Linked DNA regions of Homo sapiens. The protein of the gene in region 1 purifies or fractionates together with the protein of each later gene. This does not show direct contact. Each region holds a gene or a part of one and is shown on either strand. Other genes may lie near its edges.

The links.
Region 2: the proteins of CIPC (region 1) and ZMYM4 purify together in Homo sapiens (affinity purification with mass spectrometry; 3 studies listed by BioGRID and IntAct, with this or other methods). This does not show direct contact.
Region 3: the proteins of CIPC (region 1) and BMAL2 purify together in Homo sapiens (affinity purification with mass spectrometry; 2 studies listed by BioGRID and IntAct, with this or other methods). This does not show direct contact.

The regions. Positions count from the first base shown.
Region 1 is NC_000014.9:77,091,201-77,102,721, forward strand, and holds the start of CIPC (CLOCK-interacting pacemaker), read left to right. Parts: upstream 1-7,057; 5' UTR 7,058-7,161; intron 7,162-11,521.
Region 2 is NC_000001.11:35,416,767-35,425,044, forward strand, and holds the end of ZMYM4 (zinc finger MYM-type protein 4), read left to right. Parts: intron 1-1,676; coding exon 1,677-1,806; intron 1,807-2,703; coding exon 2,704-2,911; 3' UTR 2,912-5,292; downstream 5,293-8,278. UniProt on the Homo sapiens protein: Plays a role in the regulation of cell morphology and cytoskeletal organization.
Region 3 is NC_000012.12:27,325,303-27,337,384, forward strand, and holds the start of BMAL2 (basic helix-loop-helix ARNT-like protein 2), read left to right. Parts: upstream 1-7,533; 5' UTR 7,534-7,770; coding exon 7,771-7,801; coding exon of another isoform or gene 7,802-7,834; intron 7,835-12,082. UniProt on the Homo sapiens protein: Transcriptional activator which forms a core component of the circadian clock.

The DNA.
Region 1 (11,521 bases):
TCAATTATCTCTATGATGTACAGAGAAAAAGATGACCAGCTGGAGGCATTTTCTGTAGTATGCTTTTACAGTGCCCAGCCCCCATTCGTGGCATCCTCCTTTCCACACAAGTGCCTGTTACCTAATTGTCAACTAAAGAATCATGAATTTCATAAATCTGGAAGGGAGAGCTTTATTTCTCATAAAAGGTTGCAGCCTGCAGGCCCACAGGCTGGGAAGTGTAACCTTCAGAAGAAGCTAAGAGCAATCACTTCAAGGGAAGGCTAAAGCAAACAGAAATTTATGCTTAGCTGCATGGCCAAATATATAATATTCAGTCAGCTACAGGAATCATGAATATTTATGAAAGGAGAAACAACCATATATGCAATTGAGCTTCACATTTCTTCCTGAGTCCTATATTCAAAAAAAGTAGTGGTGTTAGCATGGTCCAAGAGTAGAGTTTTTGGCCCTCTTGTAACTGCCCAACAGGTTCTTCTTACCTACTGCACAGATAAAACCAATTCACTGAGACAGCAGTATTGCAGTAGAGAAAGAGTTTAATTATTGCAGGGTTAGCTAAGCAGAAGATGGGAGTTTATTACTCAAATCAGTTTTCCTGAGAACTGAGAGGCAATAATATTATGGATAATTTGGTGGGCAGGGGGCTAGGGAATGGGTGCTGCTGACTGGTTGGGGCAGAAATCATAGGGGTGTGGAAAATTAGTCCTTGTGTGCTGAGTTCTGGGTAGGGGGCCCACAGGACTGGTTGATTCCTGAGTCACAGATCCGATTGAAGTCAATGAGTTGCCAGAATGCAAAAGTCTGAAAAACATCTCAAAAGACCAATCTTAGGTTCTAAAATAGTGATTACCTATAGGAGCATTTGGGGAAGTTACAAATTTTGTGACTTCTGAAACAATGGCTGGTTATCATTTTTATTTTTATTTTCTTTTTGAAACTGAGTTTCGCTCTTGTTGCCCAGGCTGGAGTGCAATGGCGCTATCTCAGCTCATCGCAACCTCCGCCTCCTGGGTTCAAGTGATTTTCCTGCCTCGGCCTCCTGAGTAGCTGGGATCACAGGCATGCGCCACCATGCCCGGCTAATTTTTGTATTTTTATTAGAGACAGGGTTTCTCCATTTGGTCAGGCTGGTCTCGAACTCCCGACCTCAGGTGATCTGCCCACCTCGGCCTCCCAAAGTGCTGGGATTACAGGCATGAGTCACCACGCCCAGCCATGGCTTGTTATCATTTAATTATACATATATTTTAGCAGAATTCAGGTCCATCCCATAATCCCAATCTTGTGGTTTTTCATTACTTTTACCAAAGTGGTTTCGGTCCCTTTTCATTACTTTCACAAAAGTGGTTTCAGTAACCCCCTTCTAGCAAAGAGGGGGTTAGTTTCATGGAGGGCCTATTATCATTCTTGCTTCAAAGTTAAATTATAAACTAAATGCCTCCCATGGTTAGCTTGGCCTACACCCAGGAATGAGTGAGGACAGCCAGCCTATGAGGCAAAACCAAGATGGAGTCAGCCATGTTAGACTTCTCTTACCGTCATAATCTTTGCAAAGGCAGTTTTACTCTGACATCAAAAGGTGAAGCAGAGGACACAAAAATCCTCGCTGCACATCCTCCATGAGTCAGCCAAAACTAGTCCAGCAATGGTGGTCAGTTTTTAGGAAGGGATGCTTTGTGAAACTGGCAAGCTGTCACCCTGAAACTGTAAAGAGGGTGGGGGAGTGCAGTCACTACCTCAGGTGACTGGCTAATAGGGATAAAGGAATGGGGTGTCCATTTCTTGTTTTCTAAAGCTGGTTTCTGCCTACTCTTTAGGAAATAATTCTGGTTAAAGATTAATAAGGAAGGGGCATACTAAGGCGTGTCTGACCTCTCTCCCCATCACGGCCAGACATTCAGTTTTCAGGGTTTCTCTGGGGACTGCTTGGCCAAGAGGGGGTCATTCCAGTTAGCTGAAGGGCTTAAGATTTTATTTTTATTCCTCATAGTGCTTCTAGCTCCCCACTGGCCTCCTCCTTAGCATAGCAGGAAAGGCTGAGATATTACCCATTTCCACTTTAACATGGAGGCTGTCAAGCAAAGTGGCAAGGACTCTGGAATTCAAATCCTGGCTCTACCACTTACCACGGGTGACCTTGGCAAGTGACGTGGGCCTCCATATCTGAGCCTCCTGCTCTGTAAAAAGAAAATAATGATACTACACCCATCTCATAGACAGTGGGAGGATTAAATGAATAAATGTAGGCAAATCACTTAGGACAGCATCTGGCAAATAATAAGCACTACGTGTTGTTATGGAAGAATTTGTCTTGGGTTCTAGAGTATCTTGGTGTCAAGCAATTCCTTAAAGGAATTTCAAGTATCAGCAAGAAGACAGAGGGCTATGTGGGAAGGGTTTACACTGTCTCTAAAATCAAAACCTTCACCTGTATATGAACAGCCTGACCATAACCTGAATATTACCCTTTTAGTGTACCTGCTCTGCCAAATACTTCCCTAAAATATGAGCCAAGAACCAGTCTGGCTGGTGAGGGCCTTGTTACCTGACTGCTAAGGGAAAAAAGGTCATACATCCCACTATCACTGGCCTCTGCCTCTGCCATCTGGCACCTGTAGATCCCCCTGCCCACACAGGCTGGAGCCCCTCTCTTCTCTCACTGACCCATGAGACACACTTACCACTCCATCAAATCCTATTTAAAGACTTATGAAGTGATCAGCACCAATAATGCTAGATGCTAGATTCAAACTACAGGATAACTATTTTACAGACGGCCAAACTGAGGTTCAGGAAAATGAAATCAATGGTTCCCAAACACCAGTCCAAGAACTGTTGCCAGTCCTTGTGGTGATGTTTTCACCAGTCTTCAGCCAAACTGGAAAAATAAGACTAAAAGCTTTAAGTTTTTCATACACCCGAAATTATTCTATTTTTAAATTGTGAGGTTATGTCCTATCTTCCCTTCTGTGTATACGGAAAAGATATCAAAATGACCCTTCTTTTGTAAAATGATATTGATAGGAGCTGGAATTTGAAACTAGATCACTGACTTTCACCGTCTCCTATTACACTATTTTAATTACTTCTAAATTTTTTTTTTTTTTTTTTTTGAGACGGAGTCTCGCTCTGTCACCCAGGCTGGAGTGCAGTGGCACAATTTCAGCTCACTGCAGCCTCCGCCTCCTGGATTCAAGCAATTCTCCTGCCTCAGCCCCCTGAGTGGCTGGGATTAAAGGCGCATGCCACCATGCCCAGCTAATTTTTGTATTTTCAGTAGAGACGGGGTTTCACCACGTTGGCCAGGCTGGTCTTGAACTCCTGACCTAGTGATCTGCCCGCCTTGGCCTCCCAAAGTGCTGGGATTACAGGTGTGAGCCACTGCGCCTGGCCCACTTTTAAATATTTTTAAATGACTTTAATTTTAAATTCAACAATTATTAAACAATCGTTTATAAATATTTTAAATTGTATAACATAATACACTTAAAATATCTTCAAATAAAACTCGGCCCATGGCTGACTCTTCATGGTATCCTAGGCAGGGTTAAAAACTCAAATCCTCACACGGATAGGCAGGTTACAATTTCAAGAAGTAGATGGGAAAAAAAAAGAAACATTCGCAAGTCCCTAAATGTAGGATTTAAGGGCGCATGTCTCCCCCTGCTGGTTGTGGTGGTAGGAAACCGAACCTAGACCACAATGGTACTGGGGAGAACTTGAATTGGAAAGGACCCTACAGCAAGAAGAATAGGTGCTTCAGAACCCACTATCCATCACAGGGTCCTTACCCCATCCATCATAGGGTCCTTACTCCAACCAAGAGTAAAGAGAGTAAAGTGAGTGAAGGTTAAAGAATTCGTGGCACCAGTAAACTATCAATAGATGCTGATTTACAAATCTTGGTAAATTAATAGGAAAGGAAGAAAAACGTTTACGGTGGTTTAGCTACATAAAAATATTCACTATCAATCTTCATGAATTGCTTATTCTGTATATCTAATTATATAGAATCATAGCATAAAATAATCATAAAAATTATGCCTATCATTAGTCTTGATTCATTTGGTTCCATTACAATACTTGTCTGAAGCTTAAGTTATTGGTACAGCATGGCTGTCTGCTCAAGATGTAGGTAAAGTCAAGGAAGTTTGGTTTATTTGCCCCTTCGGAGGACTAAGAGGGCCTCATGCTTTCGCATATTTCACTGATTCTTTTTTGCTTGGTATGCATTATCCCCTCACCTGCTTCCATTATTGCAAACCCAACTTTCAAGCTGTCTTTAAAGCTTTACCTGCTGGTCTCTTTCTACTCCAACAACCGAAAAAGAAAGTTTTTTTTTTCTCCCTTAATGTTATTGTTTTGTTCAGAATCTTTTGGTAGTTATCCCATTCTCTTTCATATTGCTTATTACATCATGTCTTATTTCCCATATCAGATTGTAAGTTATTTGAAGGCAGACTTTTATTCTTTTTTTTTTTGAATTTTATTTTTGTTTTGTTTTTTATTTAAGTTCAGGGATACGTGTGCAGATTCGTTACATAGGTAAACTTGTGTCATGGCGGTTTGTTGTACAGATGATTTCGTTACCCAGGTATTAAGCCTAGTATCCATGCTGCTGTTTTTTAAATTTTTTATTTCCATAGGTTTTTGGGGAACAGGTGGCATTTTGGTTATATGAGTAAGTTCTTAAGCGGTGATTTGTGAGATTTTGGTGAACCCATCACCTGAGCAGTATACACTGCACCCAATTTGTAGTCTTTTATCCCTCACCCCCTTCCCACCCTTTCCCCTTGAGTCCCCAAAGTCCACTGTATCATCCTTATGCCTTTACATCCTCATAGCTTAACTCCCACTTATGAGTGAGAACATACGATGTTTGGGTTTCTATTCCTTAGTTACTTCACTTAGAATATAAGTCTCCAATCTCATCCAGGTTGCTGCAAATGCCATTAATTCATTCCTCTCATAGTTTATTTATTTGCCCCTTCGGAAAACTAAGATAGGACCACACCTCATGCTTTTGCTTATTTCATTGATTCTTTTTTTGCTTTGTGTGCGTCGTACTCTCACCCACTTCCATTACTGCAAATCCAACTTTTAGCTATCCTTAAAGATTTACCTACTGATCTCTTCCTACTCCAACAACCAAAAAAAAACAAAGTTTTTTTTTCTCCCTTTATTTTATTAATTAGGTTTTGTTCACAATCTTCTGGTACTTATCCCATTCTCTTTCATATTATTTATTACAGCGCGTCTTATTTCCCATATCAGATTTTAAGTTATCTGAAGGCAGATTGTTTTATTCCACTTCAAAAGAAGGCAATATATTAATAGCTTCATGGATAAAAGCCACGGTTTTCGTTTGTTTGTTTTGGTGAGACGGAGATTTGTTGCCCAGGCTGGAGTGCAATGGCACGATCTCGGCTCACCGCATCCTCCGCCTCCCAGGTTCAAGCGATTATCCTGCCTCAGCCTCCCGAGGATTACAGGCATGTGCCACCACGCCCAGCTAATTTTGTATTTTTAGTAGAGACGGGGTTTCACCGTGTTGCCCAGGCTGATCTTGAACTCCTGACCTCAGGTGATCCGCCCGCCTCGGCCTCCCAAAGTGCTGGGATTACAGGCGTCAGCCACTGTGCCTGGCCAAAGCCATGGGTTTTTAGTTGAGTCCTAATGGGCAAAAACGCCACACAACTGGAAAAAAATACCACCTGCGTCATAAACTTGTAAGGAATCATAAAAGGATGCATATAAAGCGGCCCGGCTCCTAATTACTTGGTAATTGTTAACTATTGCTTTCACTCTGTCCCCAAAACAAAAGCCTTACATGGTGTAGGCATATTACTTGTTGGTAAAGCTGACTACTAACAAGTACACCCATACCCAGTAATACATTAGAATTACCTGTGTCTAGAGGACTAACGTGATTAACCACGACCTAGCAGCACTTACAAAGGCCTGGATGACCAGTATAAAACAATTCCCCACTATCTAAATCAGCACTGTCCAATATAACTTTCTGCGATGCTGGGAATGGGCTATATATAATCTGCACTGTCCAATAAAGAGGTCACTGAGCTCCTGAAATGTGGCTAGTACAACTGAGAAACTTATCCAGTCGTTAGTGACCATCTTACTGGACAGCTCAGCTCTTGAATCTGCCTCGACCCGTCAACTCTTTAAACTCGCCCATGTCCTCTTTTTCACTAGCGAAATAATTCTTTTTCTAAGTAACCTTCACTGATTCAAGGCATCAGAACGTCAACTGATCCCAAGCCCTTTTTTTCTTTAGCTGTTACACACGTGTGTTCACCGTGAACCTTCACCAAGAAACAGCATCCATATAAAACCCATAGCACATGACAAAGTCAGTCAAACATCAAAGGTCATGAAATCATCTACTTAAAATAACTCATCGCGCCTCGACCTCGTGAAGCACGGTCTCGAGGGTGGACGGGAACAAAAAACAAACAGGGCGACAGGCGTAGAGAAAATGCGAGGAGCACGCGGGGAGGTCTGGCACCCCTGTCACGGCGACTCCAGGCTGAGGCCGCCCGCACGCCCGCTCTCCCACGCCGGGCACTGTCGCTCCCGGCACGCGCACAGGCCGGACACGACTCGCCCCGGCCCCCACCCCCAACGGCGGCACGGCGGCACGGCGGCACGCACCAAGACAGTGCGAGAGTCGCTCCTCTCTCTGTATCGACTCCAAGCCGGCCCCACCCCCGGCTCCTCTGAACCCCGCCTGGAAACCTTGCCCAAGCCGCTCATTGCTCAAGGCCCCCGTACAAAATGGCGGCGAGGCCTGAGGAACCAACCATAGAGACGCCCGCCGGCCGCGGACAGAGCGTAGGCCTCTGAGCGCTGGCCCCGCCCCGCGCCGGCCTGGTCTTCCGGCGGGGGCGGGGAAAGGGCGCATTTCCAAGGGCCCTTCTAGGAGAACAGCGTGCGGTCTCCATGGTGCCGGGTCATCCGAGTCGGGTCACGTGGCTGGCGAAAGCCGTCGCGGAGGCGTGGGGAGGAGAAATGGGCGGGAGGCTGTGGGGATAGCGAGACACCCAGCGACGACGAGGTTGTCATGGTGCCGCGGGGCCGTGCTCGCGCATGCGCCACCTGACCCACAGGCCGGTCGTGGAGCTGCGACCCCGGCCCTAGGTGAGAAAGGGAGGGCTCGGTCCGGGAGGAGGGGAGCAGGGATGACGGCGGGAGAGGGATTGGGCGAGGAGCGTGGGGAAAGGAGGTGGAAGTAGGGGAGAGAGGAAGAGGAGCGAGTAGGCAAGAGGGGCAAACCGGGACTTTCGGAGGACGGAGAGCCAAATGGTGGGAGCAGGGCTTTGGTTTGCTGTGAGGGGCGTGGGAGAGGGAATCGCGGGTGAGGAGGGGGCTGCGTGTGGGGAGGAGGCTTGTGTGAGGGGCAGGTGGGCCCTGGTCTAGCCCTGGGCGCAACCGCCAGCCGGCTGGGCGGGGAGAGAGCTTGGAGTCCAGCCCGGCTGGGAGCTGAGGGCCAAGCAATGGGCAGGTGAGTGGGCGCCAGAACTAGTAACTGGGCGAGGGTCCTGGGCTTCCGGTTTGAGGTCGGGGGTGGTACCCTGTTCTGGCTCCAGGGCACAGGTGTGCTGCCTTTTCCAGAGACCTGCCGTCACCCTCGTTGCTGGTTGTTTCCCCTGAGTGGCCAGCTTGCCAGGCTTGGTGTCGGGGGTAGTGTTTCTGGGGAGAAGGTGGGCAGTGCCAAGTAAGGAGTTAAGTGGTTAGTGGGTGGGTTCGGGGGAGCTCTGATCCCGGCCCAGGTCACAGGCTGGAGCTAGGCTCCCTGTTATTGCTCAAGTCCTGGCAGTATGCATTGCCTGGGCGTTTGCCCTGGAAGGCTGGTGGTATGCCAGTCACAGCACAGTACTAGGGTCTGCCCAGTTTTGCCCTGCTGAGCTGGCAGGCTGGTGGATGCCTGGAGGGTGCACATGCTGCCTGGCACAGATGCAACGTGGGCTGGTGCGAATGGGTAGGTGGGCACTGTTACTGTGAACTAATTGCAGCAGGGGATCGGAGAAAGTTCTCTAAGCTCATCTCCCCTTTGAAAGGTGAAAATAGAGCCAAACTGGTCTAAAACATAGGAAATTGTATGGAATTGGGGTTCAGGATCTTTGACACGAATTTTCAGCCAAGTTGGAGAAATGGAATGAATGTGGAAGGGAAGATGAATATTAGACATTTAGGTAGACAGGGTTTTTCCACTGTTAAGATACCCAGACATTCTCCCAGAATGGTATCCCTGAATATGCAGGCCAAAAGAAAATGACTTCGGAGAAAAGCTAGTAATGTATTTATAATTCTAACGGGGATTACTCAAGGTTTTCTTTCTGTGACCTTATCACTTTATTGTATTTAAGCCTCTGGTTGGGCTTTTACCTCACACTTCTGTCCAGGCACACATGTTATACACGTGACACATTTTAAAGGGAACTTGAGCTTCCAGGAATGTTGCCAAGTGTCTATAAAAGGAGAGATCTGAAAGCAGCATTTCAGATCCTTTTCTTGTAACCCTGGATCTCCTTTTTAATCATAAGGACAAATCTTCACAAAGATTGTTTGTGGATTAGATCAACCCTTAATTTGGATGGTGGATTTGTCCCTGACGTTTCAACTTAGAATAAGGGGTAGATCAAATATCTGTTTCCTGCAGGGGACCAGACGTGGAGGTTAGATCTTAAGGTGACCGTGGTGTTTGGAAATGCAGAATCTTGACCTTCAAGCTGTTCAGGTATTTCTGTGACTGCTAAGCTACTAGAGCTGTCAGAGACTCAGCAGGTCAGAGATTTGTTGGAATTTATTACTCTATTGAATGCCTCATGTTAATTGTTGGGGGCTGAGGTTGCAAAGATGAAAAAAACAACTCGAGGTTGAGGAGACAAATAATTAGACTAATGTCAGAAGTGCAAAAAGAGTAGTAAGAGCTAAATGCTTTGGAGCACTTGCTAGGATTTTGAATTTTGTCCCCTTATATAAACTTATATATTTATTGATTCACTTTCTTTCTTTCTTTTTTTTTTTTTTTTTTTGAGACGGAGTCTCACTCTGTCACCCAGGCTGGAGTGCAGAGGCACAATTTCGGCTTACTACAATCTCTGCCTCCCAGGTTCAAGCTATTCTCGTGCCTCAGCCTCTTGAGAAGCTGGGATTACAGGCACACATCCCCAAGCCCAGCTAATTTTTGTGTTTTTAGTAGAGACAGGGTTTCACCATATTGGCCAGGCTGGTCTCCAACTCCTGACCTCAGGTGATCTGCCCGCCTGTGCCTCAAAGTGCTGCTGGGATTATAGACGTGAGCCACCTTGCCTGGCTCTGATTCTCTCTTTTCTTTTCTTTTCTCTTCTTTTTTTTTTTTCTTTTGACGGAGTCTCACTCTTCACCCAGGCTGGAGGGCAGTGGCAACATCTCGGCTCACTGCAACTCCACATCCCAGGTTCAAGGGATTCTCCTGCCTCACCCTCCCAAGTAGCTAGGATTACAGATGTGTGCCACCACACCCAGCTAATTTTTGTATTTTTAGTAGAGACAGGGTTTCACCATGTTGGCCAGGCTGGTCTCGAACTCCTGACCTCAGGTGATCCATCCACCTCTGCCTCCCAAAGTGCTGGGATTATAGGTGTGAGCCACCACACCCGGCCTGATTCACTTTCCATTATGAGTTTTAGTGTGTACTATCCTCTCTGGGAAACTTTTGGACAATGTGTTACATATACATGCATAAGAGGCCCAATTAGGGTAAATTCTGACAGTTTTGGAGCCTAAATTAGCCCTTTTAATGCAGAATAAGGTACATGTGTTTGTAAAGCAGCGTGAGTGATTTCCAGTCTATGCCAGGAAGCAGGAAGCAGAAAGAACACAGTGGGTAAGAGCTTAGTAATCCATTTTCAACTCCTAGTCAGTGTGAGCATGTAACTTTATTGTAAACTAATATCTAAGAGGAAAAAAATCAAGCAACTTCCCGAGGTTTTCAGACTTTGCCTTGCAAATTTTGGGGTTGAGAGCACCAGTAGTAAGTGAGGCTTTATGTGGTGCTATGTGTGAGTGGGTCCCTCAGCCACTCCCAGGAGGGCAGTGCTGCTACTCCTCCGAAAGAGTAAAGTTTGGGGAGGGATGTAGCCCTTTGTTCTACATCCCATGTGAGCCTCCCTGGCTGCAATGCTAAGGCTTTTTGCTGCTTAAGAGAACTTTACTGAAGATAGAGGCTTTCATATTTTTAATCATTTTCATATGAAAAATAGTCAATTTGCCATCCTAAAGTCGATTTTACATTCTTTATTTCCAACTGCCACCAACTCCCCAGGATCTAAATTTAGCATCTGTTCTCTTTTTAACTTACCTCTGTGATACCTTTCCTCACCTACCATAAGGGTCATAGTTGACCCTCCCATAACAAAAGACAGGTTAACAAGAGAAAAACATAACAGTTTTATTTAATCAAAGTTTTTTTTATGACACAGGAGTCTTCAGAAGTGAAGCCTCCCAAACTCAGGGAAAACTGTCTATTTTTATGGTTAGGTTTGATGAAGAATGGACGGCTGTGTAGAAATATGATTGGACAAAAAGGGTATGATCTGGCTGGGCATGGTGGCTTATGCCTGTAATCCCAGCACTTTGGGAGGCTGAGGTGGGAGGATTGCTTGAGTCCAGGAGGTTGAGACCAGCTTGGGCAACATAGCAAGACCCAGTCTCTACAAAAAATTTAAAAATTAGCTGGGTGTGGTGGTATGCGCCTGGAGTCCCAGCTACTCAGGAGGCTAGGGCAGGAGGATCACTTTAGCCCAGGAGGTCGAGTCTGCAGTTAGCTGTGATCGTGCCACTGCGCTCTAGCCTGAGCAACAGCGTGTGATCCATCTATAAATAAAAAACAAAACAAAAACAAAAAGAGTATGATCTAATAGTAATGGACTGAGGTGGGAAACCCAGCAAGGTCTGTCTGTCCAGAATTATTCTTGACCTCTGTGTAGCATTCCTTCCTCTCTGTTATAGGGCAGGACCCATTCTGGAATGAGGGTTTTATGATCTGCTATCGGACAAGACAGGTCAGATAATTTCTTTATGGCCAGGAAGTCGAGGCTGCAGTGAGCTGTGTTTGTGGCCTTGCACTCCAGCCTGGGCGACAGAGCAAGACACAGTCTCAGAAAAAAACAAAAAGCAACAACAAAGTGCTCATTATGCTAAAGTGCCATACTTGGGAGTATTATTTTCTGAGCCTCAAAAACCGATTGTCAGTGTTTCAGTATTTTGACTCCATGATCAATTATCTCTTATCCTACAAATTCTCAATAAGCCAGAATAAATTCCTGTGTATTTTCTGTAGCTCTATTGACTACACTTTAATAATAATAGCAAGACCTTTTTCATTGTTTTGCCGCAAGGATTGTAGAAGACTAAATTGGGATGCATTATCTAAAGTACCTGTAAAATAATCCATGTTTAGTAAGATAATGTGAAACTTCAAGAACCTAAGAACCTAAGTAAGGTTCTTAATTAG
Region 2 (8,278 bases), on another chromosome or scaffold:
TTGGGCAAGCTGGTCTCGAACTCCTGACCTCAGGTGATCCACCCGCCTCGGCCTCTCAAAGTGCTGGGATTACAGGCGTGAGCCACCATGCCTGGCCTCAGTTGGTATTAACTGGGGGAGGGAAAGGCAGGTGGATAATGTTTCCCTGTTTGCTGATTGGGTGCTTGACATGATTAGTAGTGAATTCAGCTTGCTTTCTAAGTGAGTAACTAGCAAAGTCTTTCTATTTAGCTAGCTGCTAAATGGAAAATGGGTGAGTTTTGTTAAAGTAATAATGCAGGAAGCTGGGGAAAGTCCTATACCGGTTGTTAAGAGCAGATATAGGCTGAGTGCAATGGCTCATGCTTGTAATCCCAATATTTTGGGAGGCTCATGCGGGAGGATTGCTTGACCCCAGGAGTTTGAGGCTGTAGTGAGCTGTGATGGAGTCACTGCACTCTAGCCTGGGCAACAGAGTGAGACCCTGTCTCCCAAAAAAAAAAAAAAAAGAAAGAAAACCTTTTTTCCTTAGGTCCATCTAGTGTTCTCTTGAGGAGTGAATGGAAAAAGTGGGAAAGAAATAGCCCACTTTCCGTATCTTCACCCTGACTTCCTTATATAATGCTTGGCCTCTGCAAAATACTGTTGGGGAAAAATGGTTTGTTCTTTTCTTACCAAATAGTAACTCTGCTGATAATTTCTCTTCCCAACAAAGATGCCATTTCTCACAATATTCGAACAAATAAACTTGAGCAGATGCCCAGTACTAGTGCCCCACAGTAGAAATATTCTCATAGAGATGACAGCTTCTGCTGAGTTCAGTGGCTTGTACCTGTAGTCCCAGCTACTCCAAAGGCTGTGGCAAGAGGATCACTTGAACCCAGGAGTTCAAGGCTGCGGAGATTCAAGGCTGCTGTGATCACACCATCATGCTCCAGGCTGGGCAACAGAGTGAGACCCTGTCTCTTAAAAGAGAGATGGCGACCGGGCACGGTGGTTCATGCCTGTAATCCCAGCACTTTGGGAGGCCGAGGTGGGCTGATCACCTGAGGTCAGGAGTTCGAGACCAGACTGGCCAACATGGTGAAAACCTGTCTCTACTAAAAATACAAAAAAATTAGCTGGGCATGGTGGCAGGCGCCTGTAATCCCAGCTACTTGGGAGGCTGAGGCAGGAGAATCCTTGAACCTGGGTGGAGGCTGCAGTGAGCGGAGATTTCGCCGTTGCACTCCGTCCTGGGCAAGAAGAGCAAAGTTCCGTCTCAAAAAAAAAAAAAGAGATGGCAACTTCTGTCTTGATCTCTACTGTAGGAGAAAAACATGTGGAACCCTTCTTTCTGCTTTATCTTGATATGTCTCAGGAACCCTGTGCCTAATGAAGTTTATTAATAAAGTCAGGCTCAGAATAGAGACGTTTTCCAGTGCCAGTGCCATACTTTTTGTCATGGTGCCCCCACTTTGGTGAGCAGGGGAGCATAAAATTCATGGGATAGGGACTTTGTTTAATGCCATAGAATCCAGCACTTAAAATAATGTCTGGCACCTTCATAGGCACTCAGTATTTGTTGAATGAGTGTGAGTGAGTGAAAGGGAGGAAATGACAAAGTTCTGGCTGCGAAGCAAAGCTCATTGGTGTCTTGAGACTCAAAGAATAGACTTTTCTAATATAATCCTTTGATTATTATTTCCTGTCTCAAGATAAACTGACTGTTGGCAAGAGGAAACGAAATGAAGATGATGAGGTTCCAGTGGGGGTGGAGATGGCAGAGAATACTGACAATCCACTAAGATGCCCAGTCCGACTTTATGAGTTTTACCTGTCAAAATGGTAATCTTTCTCTGAACTGAATGTAGTGCACTCAGAAGGCAGTTAACATATTTTGGATTTCAGATGCTTGAACATCAGAAAAGTAGCTTGCCCGTGGCTTTAGACAAGGATTTACCATGAATTTTTTCCCCATTGTCATATCTATGTGGATTTTGAACCACAAAACAAATTACCTTGTCTTCATAATTATTTTATGAAAATGTCTTCAAAAGCAAGAATCACTGCTATTGTTTGATCTTTACAACTGTTGTACAACCTTTATGTGATACCTAATCTGTAGTTATTTTGTTATTTGTATAGAAAAGAAATTTTGTTTTGCTAAAGCTATAATAGAAAAACAATTTTTAAGGAATTGAAATTTTCTAAGTAGTCCTTTTCTTAGAGGAACTTTATGATTTTAGAGTTGTAACACTTTTTTTTCTGAAAGAAATGTAATAGCTTCATTTGCCCTTTGATAATGTGTATTGAGTGCCCTTGGAGTTCATTCCAGGATATTGGGCACTTCCAATATGTGGTGCTTGGCCATAGTGTCACATGTGAGTTGACTTTTTTGTTGCTCTTAATAATGTTTGAAGTACTAAAGTTTATGATTTACACTTTGTCTTATATTAACTTTATACTCACTTCCAATCCATTGTGATTTCAGTTGATTCCTGGGAGGAAATATTCCTGTAAACTATTTATCTCTGTGGGTACCTTGCTTTCCCCATTGTGAGTCACAGTGGAGAAAGGTTGAGAGCCATATTAGGTTGGTGCAAAAATAATTGCAGTTTTTGCCCTTACTTTTAATTACTTTTAATGGCAAAAACCTCAGTTTACTTAAGAATAGTACATATTTCCTATACTCTCTGATTTCTAATTTTCTTTTTTCTCTTTTTTTTTTTCCCCTGTGGATAGTTCTGAAAGTGTGAAGCAAAGGAATGATGTGTTTTACCTTCAACCTGAGCGCTCCTGTGTCCCGAATAGCCCCATGTGGTACTCCACATTCCCGATAGACCCTGGAACCCTGGACACCATGTTAACACGTATTCTCATGGTGAGGGAGGTACATGAAGAACTTGCCAAAGCCAAATCTGAAGACTCTGATGTTGAATTATCAGATTAAAACGGAAGTGAGGTTCTTATTTTCATACATATTGGTATGCACCAAACTGTGAATGCATCCAGCTGTTGGAAAATGATGTATAAGTCTAAGTCCTCTTGACTTGACCATAAGATCATGGAAAACAGATGACTTGTGAACCCCACAGTGTGGATGTGCAAATGAAAATTGAAGGAAAGAATATGAACTGAGAAATGTTCTTTGGCAGTGATATAGTTCTTAGACATCTTCAGAATGACTAATTTCTCCGAGTGGTGCATAATCTTATTTTGTTTGGGAGTAACAAATCGTGGAATATTTTTAAGGAAAACTGTTGTATAAAACTTTACCATAGTAACCTTAGACCTTAGAGAGGTAGCTTTGGAGTGAAACTTTGGCTGCAATAGGCTACTTTGGCAAGCCCTCCGTAAAAGTCAGAGGAGAGATCAGTACAGAGCTAAGAGTGACATCAAATGAGGACTGTGGGACCCAGATTTGAAGACCCAATAAAAATACTCAACTTTTTAAAAAAGATAGTGAAGTGGTCTTGATTGATTTTGATTTTCACTGCCAAGCCAATCATGTGAAGGACAGAAGCTTTTGCCATGGGCCCCTCACATCAGGGAAAATGACCTTCACTGCTGTTAACAGTAATGTGTCCCTTTCATTTTCTGGATCAAGCCTTCTCAGCGGTGGGTCTGGATGTGGGTAAACTAAGGTAAAGGGGATGATATTCCACAAACTAATTATGCACACAGAAAATCTGTGGAGCCTATCAGACCCCAAGTGTCTTGAAATGTTTGTAGAAACCCACTAAAATGCCCCTTCTCTGGGTGTGGGCCCTTATTGCAGCTGTCTCACAGCCTGAGCTGTGGTACAGAGAAATGGGGGTTCTCCTTTTATTTTCATTTTTTTTCCCCAATGGCAGCTTTTCTCCCGTTGTTTTACCTTCCTATTTCCCAAACAGTTCCTCTTATTTTGTCTTTTGCACCAGTTTCTGGAGGCCCTTGTCATTTCAAAAAGGATAGTCTCTTTTCTTACTCTGGCAAACCTGTGAGTGATTCCACAAAGATACAGTATTACTTAGCTATCTGAATTATGATAGAAAAGGTCCTAGTTAGGTTCCTATATAAAGCATTTGGAAGATGACCTTGTTGCCCTTGAAACTTGAAAATAGGGATTCTGGGGTGAGGATACAAAGACATTGTCTTGCATATCCATAAGCAGGTCTTAGAGCATTATTCCAAACTCTAGCTGTTTCAGTAGTTCTATGAGGATTGCAAGTCATAGGTGTGTGTGGCATATCAGTCCATCTCCCTCATCTCCATTCTCAGTTTCTTCCCCACAAAATTTGGAATCAAAGCTTTTATGACGTTTGCCAATTGCAGAACTTCTTCAGCTAAGGTTAATTTGACGCTATGATAAAACTGAGAGATGTCAAAAAGCCTCTTAGAAATTTTAATCTTGAAAGACTTTTCAGGGTATCTCATTTTTTAGGTGGGGGTGGCAGGTGTATTTCTTTTTTAACAAATAAAAGGCATTTAAGTAAAACTAAAATGAAAAAAGTAGGCCTTCTGACATTGTGTACTTGGTGGTTCTGTCCCTCTGCCTGTAACAAATCTCATTTTTGTTACCAAGAACTGTATGAAAGAAGTAAATCCACCCCGATTCTGTATGATTAATTCCATCTGTGTTTGTCATTTCTGACTGGAAAACTTCTTACTCCATACCTTGTTCGATATGGAGGACAAATAATTGGATTGTCTGATAAGTCTGCCAATAAACTATCCAGAAATAGCAAGTGTAATAGTCCCCACTATACGAATTTTATGGTTTGTATAAACACTAACATTTTCCCCTTCTGTAGTTGTATGAAAAAACAAATATTGTTAGCATAGTAGATAAATTGTTATGAAATACCAGAAAAAAAAATCTGTATCTTTTACTGAGAACACCCAATACCCAGATAAATGACTGTATCAGGATTTCATTTGCATGTTAGTCCACAGAGTTGCCCAGAACCCTAAATTTATTCATAAGAGAAAATATTGATTAATTATTGGTCATTCCTCATAAGTGTAGCTGTTGATGTGTGCGTCTGATTATTGCTTTTTTAATTTTATGAAAATTGTGTAAAATTACATTTTTTTTCCAGGGGAGAAAAAAACATCAAACAAAAACATCTAAATCATCCTTTTTGTTCTTTTTCAGTTTTTAACCACTTTTAGGTTTTCCCCTTACAGAAACCACAGAAATATTCCCTTAGAATAAAATAGTATATTTGTATTTGATGGGTGAGTTCTTCTTCTTTACGTCTTAAAAGAATTTGAAATCTCTTTTTCTGATTGACCTTATTGGTATGACCCAGCAATTAGTAAAATTACAAAGAAAGAGAGCAGTTTCCGAGAAAGAAATTTTTTTTATGTAGTCCAGTCAACATATTTTTTCATTGCAAGTTCTTTTATTTCCTTTTTTCCATCAAAAGACTTGTTCCCATTTTTAGCTAATTTACTGACTATATTCAAAGTCCCAACAGGTAGAAATATCAGAGATCATTTATACATATCATTTCAGGCAAACTTTTTTGAGATTTACAAAGCCTACATCAGTTCAACTTTAATGAAATTGTAAGACTAGAATAAAGGATATGTTCATTCTTAAGTATAAATACATGTTTAAAACAGGAATGTAAGACTAAATAGCATTTTCCTTCGACTTCAGAGTTGTCTTGGTATTATGCAGCTGTACTTTCAAATTCCGTATCGACTTTCTACCTACCTGCCTTGTGGCAATCCTAAATTTATAAAACAGGTTTTCCCAAAAGATCTAATGTAAAATGAATTTCTATTAATGAATTCAGAATTTAATTTTCCAAAGAAGTCTCCTAGGGTATTGAGTTGAAGTTTTAGGAAAGAAGCAATCATACCCTGAACTCCTCTAGACTAGCACTTGTCTGTTACACTGTGCTATCATCATTGAAGAGAATAGTGATTGAGAGGCAATGCTATGTAGTGGAGAGATCATAGGCGTCGAAGCCTAGTGTTTCTACTTACTGGTTGTATAACTTTAGGTAAATTACTTAACCTCAGGCCAGGCACGGTGGCTCACACTTGTAATCCCAGCACTTTGGGAGGTCGAGGCAGGAGGATCATGAGGTCAGGAGATCGAGACCATCCTAGCTAACATGGTGAAACCCTGTCTCTACTAAAAATACAAAAGTTAGCCGGGCGTGGTGGCGGGCGCCTGTAGTCCCAGCTACTCGGGAGGCTGAGGCAGGAGAATGGCGTGAACCCGGGAGGCGGAGCTTACAGTGAGCCGAGATCGTGCCACTGCACTCCAGCCTGGGCAACAGAGCGAGACTCCGTCTCAAAAAAATAAATAAAAAAATAAGTAAATAAAAATTAACCTCTCTGTGCCTCAGTTTTGTTATCTATAAAGTGGGTATAACTCCCTTATTAAGTTGTGCCTGGCACATGGTAGGCTTTCAAATGTCAGATATTTTTTATTACATGCAAATTTCCTGGCCTGTACTAACACATTAAATAAATGTTAATTCCCACACTACAGTCTGAATTTTTACTAAGTATAGCACTTTGGCTTCTGCAAAACATAATACTCTATTTATATAACCAATTCTACATATTTGAATCAAACAAAATTACAAATTCTTCACTTGTGCTTATGTGCATATCAATAGTAATCAACATCACAAGAATCCATTGATATTTTCACTATATTGAAAAATGGGGCTGGGCACGATGGCTCGTGCCTGTGATCCCAGCACTTCGGGAGGCCAAGATGGACAGATCACTTGAGGTCAGGAGCTCGAGACCAGCCTGGCCAACATGGTGAAACCCCATCTCTACTAAAAGTACAAAAATTAGCTGGGCGTGGTGGCAGGTGCCTATAATCCCAGCTGCTTCAGAGGCTGATGCAGGAAAATCACCTGAACCTGGGAGGCGGAGGTTGCAGTGAGCCGAGATCAGGCCACTACACTGTCCAGCCAGGGCAACAGAGTAAGACTGTCTCAAAAAAAAAGAAAAAAGAAAGAAATGGGCATGTATATCAGTATATATAGGAACAGCATATGATAGAGTTTATTAGTTTTTTTCTTTATATTTCTTTTTGTTTGTTTTGAGACACAGTCTCACTGTTGCTCAGGCTGGAGTGCAGCGGTGCGATCTTGGCTCACTACAACTTCCGCCTCCTGGGTTCTAGTGATTCTTCTGCCTCAGCCTCCTAAGTAGCTGGGATTACAGGTGTATGCCACCACACCTGGCTAATTTTTGTATTTTTAGTAGAGACGGGGTTTTGCCATGTTGGCCAGGCTGTTCTCAAACTCCTGACCTCAAGTGATCTGCCCACCTCAGCCTCCCAAGTGTTGGGATTACAGGTGTGAACCACCACGCCTGGCTAATATTTCTTTTTTTCTTTGAGATGGAGTCTCGCTCTGTTGCCTAGGCTGGAGTGCAGTGGCTCGATCTTGGTTCACTGCAACCTCTGCCTCCTGGGTTCAAGTGATTCTCCTGCCTCAGCCTCCTGAGTAGCTGGGACTACAGGTGCACGCCACCATGCCTGGCTAATTTTTGTATTTGATGGGGTTTCACTATGTTGGGCAGGCTGGTCTCGAACTCCTGACCTCAGGTGATCTGCTGCCTGCCTTGGCCTCCCAAAGTGCTGGGATTACAGGCATGAGCCACTACATCTGGCCTATTTATATTTCTTTGCATATGAATGCCAGGTCATAAATTTATTTTTTAATTGGGAGAAAAACCTTAAATCTATGAAACTTCTTTTACTTGGTAGGTTATATATGTCATCAGTTTAGGAACAAGACAACGGTACAACAGCAATCTCCCCACGCTTCACTTCATTAACAGAACTGCTCCTTCCCCAAAAGTTTTAGCTAGGCAGTGGCTCCCTTGGTAAAAAAGTGTATTTTCCAGGCTAACTTGTAGTTAGGAGTGACCATGGGACGAAGTTTTGACCAATGGCATGGAAGCAGATGTGAGTTTACATCTCCCAGGCTACACTCCTAAAAGGAAAATGCATGCTCCTCTCTTGTCTTCCCTTTTTCCTCTGATCTGGAGCATGAACGTGGTCATGGCAAACCAGTTTTGTCCATGTGGGAAAGGGCAGCATACCAGAAGTACATTAACCTCATGGACAGAGCCACCTGTCTCTCCTGGTCTGCCTACTAGCTCAGACCTTCACATAAGAGAGGAACTTTCATCTTATTTAAAGCCTTTTTTTTTCCTCTTCATTAAAGTAGCCAAACCAGTATCCTAACGAATACACCGGTAATGCCCACTGTCACATTACCACTAAACGGAACTGGAACTTCTCATCACAACAAAAAAGGTTATCAATATTGCAAGGTGAGAAAACACA
Region 3 (12,082 bases), on another chromosome or scaffold:
GGGTTTCATTTATTTCTATACTTTTTCTGTTTTTTAAACACCTGCATATTTTTATGTAAATCTCTAAATTTAAAATATTTTAAGTACATTTATTTTTGGTGTTTTATTGTATAAAACCTTAGACAATCAATCAGTCAGTCTTTACTGACAGGAGCAGCAGCTATCTGTCTTTTGCTGATCTACAAATAAATGAATTGAGAATTTAGTCCATAGAGGTCCCTGGCTACCAAACACATTCTCCTTTGAATTGTTAAAATTCAGAACATTCAAAATAACTGTTTTGCTACAACCCATGATTATTTTCCTGTTGTGTTTATTTAAATTTACTTTCTCTTTAGAAGTGCACTTATTTCTGAAAAATCTTAATGAAACAAACGCTTAGAACAAATATAAATATGAGACACTTGGGACTACTAGAGATATTTTAGATTTTTATGAAAAAAATGTGAGGGGATATTGCTGCTTTAAAAAGGAATAAAGTAATAAAAATATATCTCAGCTATTTTTTTAAAGCAATATAATTCAGCAATTGTCTAGAAAAGTAATCATGAGGCTACTGAGTTTGGTGTTCAGTTACTGAGTTTCAAAAATGTTTTGGTGGCATGAGGACAAAATTTCATTGAAGGTAAGATAAGAATAAAAACTATGTTTACAAAATTTCTGTTGATGAAGTTTTTTGGTTTTATTTTTGAGTTTTGAGATAGGTGTTACCCAAAACTCAAGAAAGACTATTTAGTTAATGTAAATTACTGTCTAACTTTTACACTTGAAGATCACATCAAGAACAAAATATTTGAAGTTTGTATTTAAAATCTCCATTCAAATCTGTAGCTAAAAACATATAGGCTACACGAACTGTGCTGTACTTTCAGGTACTTATTGGATGCATAGCTTATATACAACTATCCAACTTGGTCAAAACCAATTAGCAAGCACTAAATTGAAAATGCCTCAAAATAGCATAGGAATATGTGGCCCAGGTACCACTACCTCCCGTGCTGTGGAAGACACTGACAATCATCATGACTTTTTCCACTGAGCCTTGAGGAAGCCCGTGGGAATCCCATTCAGCCTCATTGTTCTCCAGCTGTTCCCTGACATACATCATTTCAATAATGCCACTGTCAGACACAACATTGAAAACACTGAATGTTAAAATTTGGGCATTACAGCAAACTCGGAGACTCTAAATTCATCTTTCAAAAACATCTAGTGATACAAAGAACTTATATTTGTACACAAAATGCCTTCACTTGTTTTTTACAACTACTCTGTAATTACATAATTACCATCATTTTATAGATGACCATGAGGCTGAGTGATTGTGACTTGCCTAAAACACAAGTAATAAGTTGCCCTTGAACCCAAGTCCAGTGTTCCCTACTCCTCCAAATCATAGAGTGAACTCCATTGACAAATTAACTTCATTGACAACTCATATGCTTCTAGGATCTCAGGAGTATACATGGAGTGATAGGGCCAGAGTTATTACTTTGCATACTTTTGACCACAAGTGACAGAAAACACAAGTAAAAATGGCTTCAATGATAAGGAAAGCGAGTATCTTATGTAACAATAAGACACAAGATAGCTTCCAGAGTAGTCATTTTAGCATCTCACAAACATCAAGGAATCCAAGAGCATGCACCTGTAGTCCCAGCTACTCAGGAGGCTGAGGCAGGAGGATCCCTTGAAGCCAGCCTGGGCAACCATAGCAAGACCCTGTTTTCCATTTCTCTACTTTGTCATGACAAGGGTGTTGGCTTTGTCCTTGGTCTTGTTTTCTCAGAGAAGCTAGATGACTACAGAGACTCTAAGCATCAAATCCTCACACAACAGGTAAGGCCTTAAAAAGAGAAATACTTCTGCATTTCCACTTTTTTTTTTTTTCTTTAAAAGAAAAAACAACAGAGTCTCACTCTGCGGCCCAGGCCGGAGTGCAATGGCGCGATCTCGGCTCACTGCAACCTTCGCCTCCTGGGTTCAAGCGATTCTCCTGCCTCAGCCTCCCAAGTAGCTGGGACTACAGGTGTGCGCCATCACGCCCAGCTAATTTTAGTTTTGTTTTTTTTTTTTTAATTTTTTTTTTTTTAGTAGAGACAGGGTTTCACCATGTTGGCCAGGCTGGTCTCAAACTCCTGACTCCAGGTGATCTGCCCACCTCGGCCTCCCAAAATGCTGGGATTATAGGCATGAGCCACCATGCCCGGCCTTGCATCTCCACTTTTTAAGAGCAAAGAAAATCTTTTCCAGAAGCATTCTAAGCAAAGTAACCCTCACATCTTATTGTCCATGACTGTGCCATCCATGTAGTCCTAAACCAGTACCTGATGGGCAATTGATTTAAAACTAATCAAGCATCACGTCCCTTCTACTGGGATGAGACTAACCTAAAGAACATGGCCACATGATACCAGAACCAAATTAGGGTGCTTTCGACAAACTACAAGGTAATCAAGATGATGCCACACAGGTTTATTGCAATGATTCTTACCTGAAGCCACGGCACCTAGATTGTGGTGTTGGATCTGCTGCCTACATCGGAACTGAAGGTTGGTCCATTAACATTTTTCACAGAACAGGATTGGGTCTCTGGACATCATACAGGAAGATGGACATCATACAAACAGGCCTTGGTCTTTTTAGTGCTTTTTCCATTCCTCCCAGATCCTATTCATCAGAGTAGATAATCTATTGGTCCATCTCCTCTAGAGCTCATATCAGAAATGGGGACCCTGATCAACTTATTTCCTCCCAAGATCCAGCCAAGGGTGGGGTGGTCTAATTACTATTAGCTCAATTGCTTTGTCAAAATTGGGAAGATGATCTCTGACTAATGAAAATTAAACATTTCTCAGGTGAGATTGCTAAACTACCATCAAGTTATCTGAATTACTTTACCTCTTAACATTCATGATCAAACTCCTAAACACAGGAAGACTTGTAAGTCTCTTCAAAAGGGAGAAACTCATGGTAGGAAAAGTAAACTGTCAATACTCAGCCTAATATCTTTTTTTTTTTTTTTTGAGACGGAGTCTCACTCTGTCGCCCAGGCTGGAGTGCAATGGCGTGGTCTTGGCTCACTGCTACCTCCACCTCCCAGGTTTAAGCAATTCTGCCTTGGCCTCCCGACTAGCTGTGATTAGGTTCCTGCCACCGTGCCTGGCTAATTTTTGTATCTTTAGTAGAGACGGGGCTTCACCATGTTGGCCAGGCTGGTCTCAAACTCCTGACCTCAGTGATGTGCTCGCTTGGCCTCCCAAAGTGCTGGGATTGCAGGCATGAGCCACCGCATCCAGCCTTTTTGTCTTCTTGGGTAAAAAAATCAGGAACAGAACTTGGAGAACCCTCTTGTATGATTGTATATAATACCGAGAGGACTGAGGAAGACTTGGGATACCATAACTGCTTTAAGAGTGTTTAAAAACTGTAAAAGTAAACATCAGTTGAGTTATTGATGCTTATACACACATACAAACGCATAATCCCTAAGGGAAAAAGTGTAAGCAACTCCACATAAAAGTAGATGTGTGCACAACTATTCCCTCATTCTTGTCCTAAGTTTTGTCCTTCCTTGCAGTTTGCTCAGAATTTTAGTATATTGCTATTCCTGTCCCTAAGAAATACTGCTTCTCTCCCCGCTGCTTCCCCGGTGTACATACCATACTGCAACAACCCAGCTTAAGAAAATTGATTTTTGATAAGTTAAAGCAGTATTTCCTAGATGAGAGTACTCAGAGCAACTTTCAAAATCAGCTAGGAAGCACATTTGAAATAAGGACTTAGTGTGATTCACCCCAAACCTACTAAATCAGTCTCTGGGGGTGGGTCTAAAATTGTGCACATTCTCATGTACATTGAATTTTGGGAACCACTGAGCTAACAGAAAAAGAAACTAATACCTGCTCATTGGTTTTTGTGAGAATATATATATATAAAGTAACTGATGCACAGTAGGTAAAATACAGAAGTCAGTGCTTACAACAGTGCCTGGCACACAGCAGGTGCTCAATAAATACATGTGAACAAGTTAATTAAATGACTATTTTTGTGGGTGGCCCTGCTTTCCACCTAAGGCCAATCTCAAAATGTTTTCACTTTTAATAAAAACATAAATACGACTCCAAAAGCATTGAGAAAATGAATGCAGCTTTTGCTGAAGTTGTTATTTTCCAGGGAAATAATGTAAGAGGGTTTGCATTACACAATGAAGTTCCCTAAATACCGCTTTAAGATATCTCAAATTTCCTGGCTAGGTGCAGTGGCTCACGCCTGTAATCCCAGCACTTTGGGAGGCTAAGGCAGGCAGATCACATGAGGTCATGAGTTCGAGACCAGCCTGACCAACATGGTGAAACCCCGTCTCTACTGAAAATACAAAAAATTTAGCTGTGTGTGGTGGCACATGCCAGTAATCATAGCTACTCAGGAGGCTGAGGCATGAGAATCGCTTGAACCCAGGGAGGCAGAGTTGCAGTGAGCCGAAATCACACTACACTCCAGCCTGGGCGATAGAGCGAGACTCTATGTAAAAAAAAAATTAAAATTAAAAAAAGATAGCAAATTTCCTCTCCTTAAGGCAGCTGCACCACCTCCTTTACCACCCTCTCTGTCTCAGGAATGCTCTGTCCTCCAATTACCTCTCTGCTTTTCCTTCCCTTAGACCATGCTCAAGCTCATCTTTCCTATACCAGAAGCCCACCATAGATCCTCTTCTCTCTCTAAACATATGGGAGAGTGTTGGCCTACTTGTTTCTCCAAACTGCACTCATCAATCTGCCCAGCAAATCCAAGCATCTTCCCCAGGATTCACCCTCCACAGGATGCTGGGGGCAGGGTAGGAAGAAAAGGTAGTTTTAAACATTAATAATTTATTTTCCCCAGTCACTTAGGAAATCAATAATGGGTAGTTGCTATTTATTTATTTATTTATTTGAGATGGAGTCTTGCTCTGTCACCCAGGCTGGAGTGCAGTGGCGTGATCTCAGCTCATTGCAACCTCCCCCTCCTGGGTTCAAGCAATTCTCCTGCCTCAGCCTCCCGAGTAGCTGGGATTACAGGTGCCCGCCACCACACCCAGCTAATTTTTTGTATATTTAGTAGAGACGGGGTTTCACCGTGTGAGCTAGGACGGTCTGCACATCCTGACCTCGTGATCCGCCTGCCGTGGCCTCCCAAAGTGCTGAGATTACAGGCGTGAGCCACCATGCCCGGCCTATGTAATGTTTTTTTTTTATTTACCATCTTTACCATTTTAAGTGTACAGTTCCCAATGGTAATAAATATATGTTCAGCCTTCTTTTCCCCTTGTTGTTTTCCACCCCCTCTTCTCTCCCCTTCCTGGCTTCTGTGTTATTTATTGTTATGCATCATTGGAAATAGTATCTTCAATTTAATTACACTCTGAAGCAGGTGTGGTTTTTTGTTGTTTTGGGTTTGGGTTCTATCTTGTTGTTTTTTGTTGTTGTTGTTGTTGTTGTTGTTGTTCTTGGACCAAATACAATATCTAAGTGGCTTTAGGGACTCCTCTCTAATCTAAGTTATATTGTTACAATCCCAGCAGAATGCTAAAAGGACAGGAGTTTACAGCTTGTGAGGCCGTGGTTCCTAATTCCAGATGGACAAAGGAGTATTTGTTCCACCTTTAAAATATTTGTTCTTGCCTGAGTACTTAGCAATGAAAGAAAATTAATGAACAAATTAAGTGAAAGGCAAGCAATGATTCCTGGAGAGCAAGGCAGCTCCAGGGCTTTTGGCAGGGGAACCATGCTGACCAGAAGGAACTGTGTGCATTCTATTACACAAATTCTCTAGCATTCTATTATACAAATCATCCAATCACCTTTCTCACATTTTTTTTTCCAAGTTGAAAATATGAGAAAACCACTCACTGGAAATGAGAGATTACCTTCCTATCCATCTGGCAAGACATTATATGTCTCTCTGCCTTATCCTATGGGTTATATAGCTACTCTTTAAAAAACAAAAAAATCATGTCTTAGAAAGTAAAGCTCCAGAGCATAAAGAAAAAAAGAGAGCAAGCAGGCTTTAAACCTGAGCAGTAAGGGGAATACCTATTAAGCAATGAAAGGGTTGTGCCCCATGGAATGCTGTAGGTCGGCTTTGTTTGTGCATTATTACCCTTCCTGCTTTCGTATTTTAGATTCTGGATTCCCCTTCTCTTGCTTTCAGGCTTTGGTGGAAGTGAATCATCGTTTCTAAGAAACGGGGACTGCAATGATTCACAGGCAAGCTTACTGGACACCACAATAGGAACTCCTAAGAAGGAGACCTAACTTTTATGGTCTTGCTTCTACTATCTACTAGCTGAGTGATCCTGGCCAAAATACTCGACATCTCTGAACTTCTGTTTCTCTACTAAGACAGGAATTAAGAAAGAGGTTGTGAGGCTCACTGAGCCGATAAGGGGGAAAATGCATTGTAAGCAAGGCCATGTATAGAATAGTATTTACATTTTAACCCAGATCTTAAAGCCCAGGTCTAATTAATTCTACCTGTTACCCCTTGGTAAACCACCTCAAAATAGTGTACACTTGTCTGGAAAGCCAAGGTTTGATCACATTCGGGAAACCCTGTATGGAATTACTGTTTCTAGCTGCCAGGAGAAGTTGGTGTTGGTAGAATTTGGGGTGGAGTTCCAAGTCAAAGCTAGGAATGAGACGTTTCAAGACTGGTTTTGATTAGGGATGTGTCTTGGTGTGTGTTGAGGACAGCACAGTTTTCAGCACGTCTCCCTTACCTCTAAAGTCCTAGCCCCTGCTTAAGCCTGCAACAGTTTTCTCCTGTCATGCCCACTTCTGCTTGGGAACACACTTCCAAACCCTCTGCCCAGCCTCTCACAATGGCCCTAAGTACTGCCCTGAGGACACATAAGGTGCTGGTTAAGACGTTGGAATTGAGTCCTTGTAGGAAAGTTATTACCTTTAGGCTGGTTGCAAAGTTTGATTTGGTGTCTTCTCTACTGTGACTTTCCTTTACTTACTTCTACTAGATTACCAAGGAATGGGTCTAGGGACCAGTGGGAGGGCAGCAAACCAGTGTATTCTAGACACGTGGCCATAGGATGTAGGGCTGTCAAGTGATGCCCAAAAGATCTTGTTTCTGGATTTACCCAACCGTTCCAGGAGGCAAAACGGCTTCCTCGGGACCCTCTCTCTGTCATCTACACTCTCGTCTCTGCAGCTAAGCCCTTCCTTAAGCAGAAAAGAGCAGGGTCTCTCGTCCAGCACCCTCCTCCCCAACCCTAGCCCCGTGCCCTCCGCTAACCCACCGTGCAATTATCTTCATTCATCCTTTACCTTTGCCCCGAGGGTCTAACAACTGCAATCTTCGGAATGCTGGGACAAAGCTTACTATGAGCATGGAAGCCTGTTTTCAATAGGGTGGTTGCTAGAAGGACTCAACTGGCCTTTTAGTGCTTTGCTGCTCGCGGGAGGGCTCGGCGGGGCGGTGTCCGCAGCGACTCCGCCCTTGGCCCGGGTCTCTTTCCCGCCGGGAAGCCCCGCGGCGCCCAGAGCGGCGGGCGGCTGGCTCCAGTCCGCATGCTCAGTAGCTGCTGCCGGCCGGGCTGCGGGGCGGCGTCCCGTGCGCGCCTACGGGCTGCGGTGGCGGCCGCCGCGGCACCCGGCAGGGCCCGCCAGTCCCCGCTTCCCTGCTCCAGAGCCGCCGCCTGGGCCGGGGCAGGGCGGGCCCGGGGCTCCTCCATGCTGCCAGCCGCGGGGCTGCGGAGCCGACCAAGTGGCTCCTGCGATGGCGGCGGAAGAGGAGGCTGCGGCGGGAGGTGAGGTTGCCGGTGGCGAGGCGACGGCCCCAGGTGGGCGCGCGGCGTCTGACGCGCTGGGGGCGTCCCCGCGACGCCAGGTCTGCCCCCGCTGCCCCGAGGGAAGCGCCCGCGCCTGTCCTCTCGGGCCGGAGCATCGCCTCCGAGGGGCGGTGGGACAAGGCCGCCCCGTGGGGCACAGGTGCGGCGCGGCGCCCGGCGCGTCCTCCCGGGGAGCGGGACGCGGGGAGGGGAGCTGGGGTCGCCGCCGGCGCTCAGGACGCGGTGTCTTGGTCCCGGGCCGGGCGCATTGGCGAAAGGGAGCCAGCGGGGGACCTTGCACCCGGCGCTGGGAGCATCCGCCTCCACCCACTGCTGGGCGCCCGCGTCGGCGTCGGCATGGCATGCACTGCTGCGGGGACTTCCTATATTTCTTCTTTCTTTTGTGTAAACCAGTTGTCAGCAGCCTCGGACCTAGCCCGGTTCCTGTGAACCCCTCCCCTCTGAGCTGATAATACTCGCGGCTTCCCGGCTTGAACCGCTGCCCCGCGGTGGAGCGCGCAGGTGGGCAGGTGCGCGTGGACGCGGGGCCACACTCCGGGATCGCAGCCCGCTCCGCGACAGCCCTCCATAAGCGACAGGCGGCTCGTGTCTTTCACCGCTGAAGCTTCAGGAAAGCCGTCAGTGGAGTTAGCTTGTTCGATTATGTATTTCTGTGGTATTTTTGTGAATGGAGTTGGAAGTTTGCGGTGCTTTTTCCTTCTCGCTAGTATTCACTGGCAGTATTCTGTAGTTCCTTACAACGGGGCCTTTGGGACCACTGCTCACAATTACGGAATGAATACAAAATAGCTGTTGTTTAAGACAAATGAGAGGCAGGAAAACAGAAATAACTGAAGGAAGACTGGCAGAGAAGTTCAGGGAAGCAGTTAATTCTCCCCTTTCCTTTTGGAATAAGATGATAGAGTTTTAGATTCTTCTCTGAAATAAGGCAATGAGAGGAGGTGGCTTTCGAAATTCTAATATAATTGTGGGAATTTACATCATGGGGCGATTTCAGAAATTCGATCATTTGAATATTCGTAGTCTTAGGTAAACCCTTTGTTGAAAATAGAAGATGGCACGTGTGGTGTTTATAAGCTCTGACACCCTTTCTGCTCCGTCTTGTGACTGAGCTCTGCCCTTTACTGTCTGTGTCACCCAGGTTATTTGAAATCTCTTAGTCTAAGTTCCCCCATCTGTAAAATGGAGATAACTATGCAGTCTGCCTTATAGGATTGTTAGGAGTAAATGAGATATGAGATATGAATGCAAATAAAATGCTTAGCCCAATACTTAGGAAATAGTAAGTGCTTCATAAAACATTAACTTAATGTAGTTATTAATTTACAACTTCAATTTGCTTTGTGAAATTGGTGAGTGCTGTCTGGTCCATTAAGAAAGTGTTGTCCCTTGTGAGTTAAAATTGGCCAAACTGAAAGGAAGTGAAAATGCACCTACTAATTCAAAGAAAATGCACCTACTAATTCCCCAGATAAGTCTTACGAACTTACAACAAGCTTTTAGATAAAGTTTAATGCTATTTATCTAACTATTTTAGATTAATAGTTTATTGCTCTTTGCATACCAAATGTAAAGCTGGGAATAATAAAAATTAAATTTTCTTAATTAAGGGTAGCAATGTTTCTGTGCGGGCTGGGAGAGCCCGCAGGTATGAGTACCTAAGATGTCACAGACATTTCACAGGGGTGCTTCTGTTAGTCTTACAACAGCGTTGTGAGGTAGGTAGTATCTCCATTTCACAGATGAGAAAACTGAGGCTGGCTCACAGTTATACAGCCAGGACATGACAGAACTAGAGTTAAAATCCATGGCTGTCGCCCATACTCCTTTCTTTTCTTTCCCATCTGACTTGGTGGTGCTAATGAGCAAGTGTGCTCACTTCCAGACACCTGCTTATCTAAAGAGTAGTAAAAAATAGAACGCTCAACGAAACCTCTAGGAGGAAAAAATGTATATGTATTTTTACTATTTCTCCCTATTCCCAGAGGGAAAACAAAAACAGGCCTCTGGGCCAGTTGGTGGCCATCTACAAAACTAGCCCTAAGGTTTTGTTTTGCTTTGTTTTGTTTTGTTTTGTTTTGTGTTTTTTTAACAGTGTAAACCAAACTATGGGTTTCCCCACCCCATCAGTTTTAGATGGTAAACACCGAAATTGAGCATGCTGCCAAGTGACTGGGTGTCCTCCTAATAAATGATTCCAGAATCCTTGGGGTAGGAAGAGGGCAGTCTTGGGGAGCAGCACATTTCCAAGACTCACTGCCAGAGATGGTCTGGGGTTGAGGCCTCTGTGGGGCAGCTTTCTCACCTTCCGTTTTCTTACCAGCTCATGTTTTCACCTATGATAGTGTAAGATCCAATTCTTTTACATGTAGTTCTGCAATTACAGTGGTTTAAATTTACTTTGTGAGTCAGAAATCAAACGTCATGTCCCAATCAATTTTGCCTAAGCTCCTGTTACTGGCATGGATCCTTGGGCAAAATTTCAGCCAGAAATGCATTATTCAAGATAAACCAGGATGGGCTAATTACTTTTCACATATTTAAGGGGGAGGAAAATAGAGAAGGAAAGAGAGAAAGAGTGAGAGGAGGGAGAAGGCAAGAGAGGAGGTGTGAAGTAAAGAGAGGAGGAGAGGGGAAAGGAGGAGGAAGGAGAGAGTGAAGGAAGGAGAAGGGGAGGAGGGGAGGGACTGCCACTCCATCAAAGTTTGACTCCAGGAAAAACAAAAACTAACGTTTAAAATATATAGGGAAAGCCAAAATATCAGTAGGAGAATACAGTGATTTCAGTTTACTTTGTCCTTGTGAAATGACTCCCTAGTTCTAAAAAGCATGATGTTCTGTGCTGTGAACATTGAGGTAGCATCCTTTTGAAATCTCCATTTGTGTCATGTTCAGGAAATCATAAATGAGCAAATAACAATTCATTCTGGTAGCCCTAGTTTTCAGTTGTCTCATTTAATTGAAGACCTCCACTTCTCTGCATTGACAACTGAGTTACTCGGGTGCTTGGGGTCTGGGTCATTAGTCAGCATCATCATGGTCATAAGCATTTTCAGGGACCTCAGAGTGTGCCATGTGCCCTACAGGAGGCAAGGGCACCTGAGACATCCGCCTGTTCTGTGAGACAGTGATTTCCTGCCCTGGTTTTTGCAAGGTTACTACCTGTAGTGGCTCCCCTGGTTCTCAGCATCCCAGCCCTCTGTAGCCCCTGCCTTGCCCAGTGCCTCACCCCTTCCCAGTGGCAGGAGCCAGTGGGAACTAAGAGCCTTCAGTGTAAGCCCTTATTGGAGCTAGGACTGCAGGTGAGATATGTTCTCTGTAGTAGCGTGTAGTATTTCTAGATATTTACTGATAATTTATGCAATACTTAGCTATGTATGCCCTGCCGCACCCTGTTTCCTTCTCTTACTCAGGTGCTGTCACACTTACTGGTCCCTGACACATACTGTTTACATTGTATCACACTAGGCTATAATATCCCATTTACCCACCCAATTTTTTAACTTAAAATATTTTTAAACCTGGCTGGGCGCGGTGGCTCACGCCTGTAATCCCAGCACTTTGGGAGGCTATGGCAGGTGGATCACCTGAGGTCAGGAGTTTGAAACCAGCCTGGCCAACATGGTGAAACCCTGTCTCTACTAAAAAATACAAAAATTAGTCCGGCGTTGGTGGTGCGTGCCTGTAATCCCAGCTCAGGAGGCTGAGGTGGGAGAATCACTTGAACCTGGGAGGCAGAGGTTGTAGTGAGTCGAGATCATTCCACTGCACTCCAGCCTGGGTGACAGAGCGAGACTGTCTCAAAAAAAAAAAAAAAAAAAAAAAGTATTTTAAACTTCCTTAAAACTTCTTAAAATCAGTTCAGTTATACAGTGTTAACATTCTCACCTGAAAATACTTAAATGGTTGGCATGATAGGAAATTTGACATTTATGTAGCTAAATTATTTGTATTTCATTTCTCTAGTCTTTAATCTTATGGTTTAAATCTCTAGATGGTACCATTACAGCGAGATTAAAAACAAAGAAGTCTAAAGGAAAAGGAAATGTAAAGAGAATCATTCTTCCACTCTATGCTTTGCATTAAAGGATATTTAGAATTGAAGGTTAAGACTATTGTGATAAAACAATAACTTCCAAGACATTCAAAGTGTTTTACTTACAACATTTCATACATTTTTAAGTAGATTAGAAATATACTTTATCATATTTTCCAAGCATATCACAGGGAAAGTAGAGA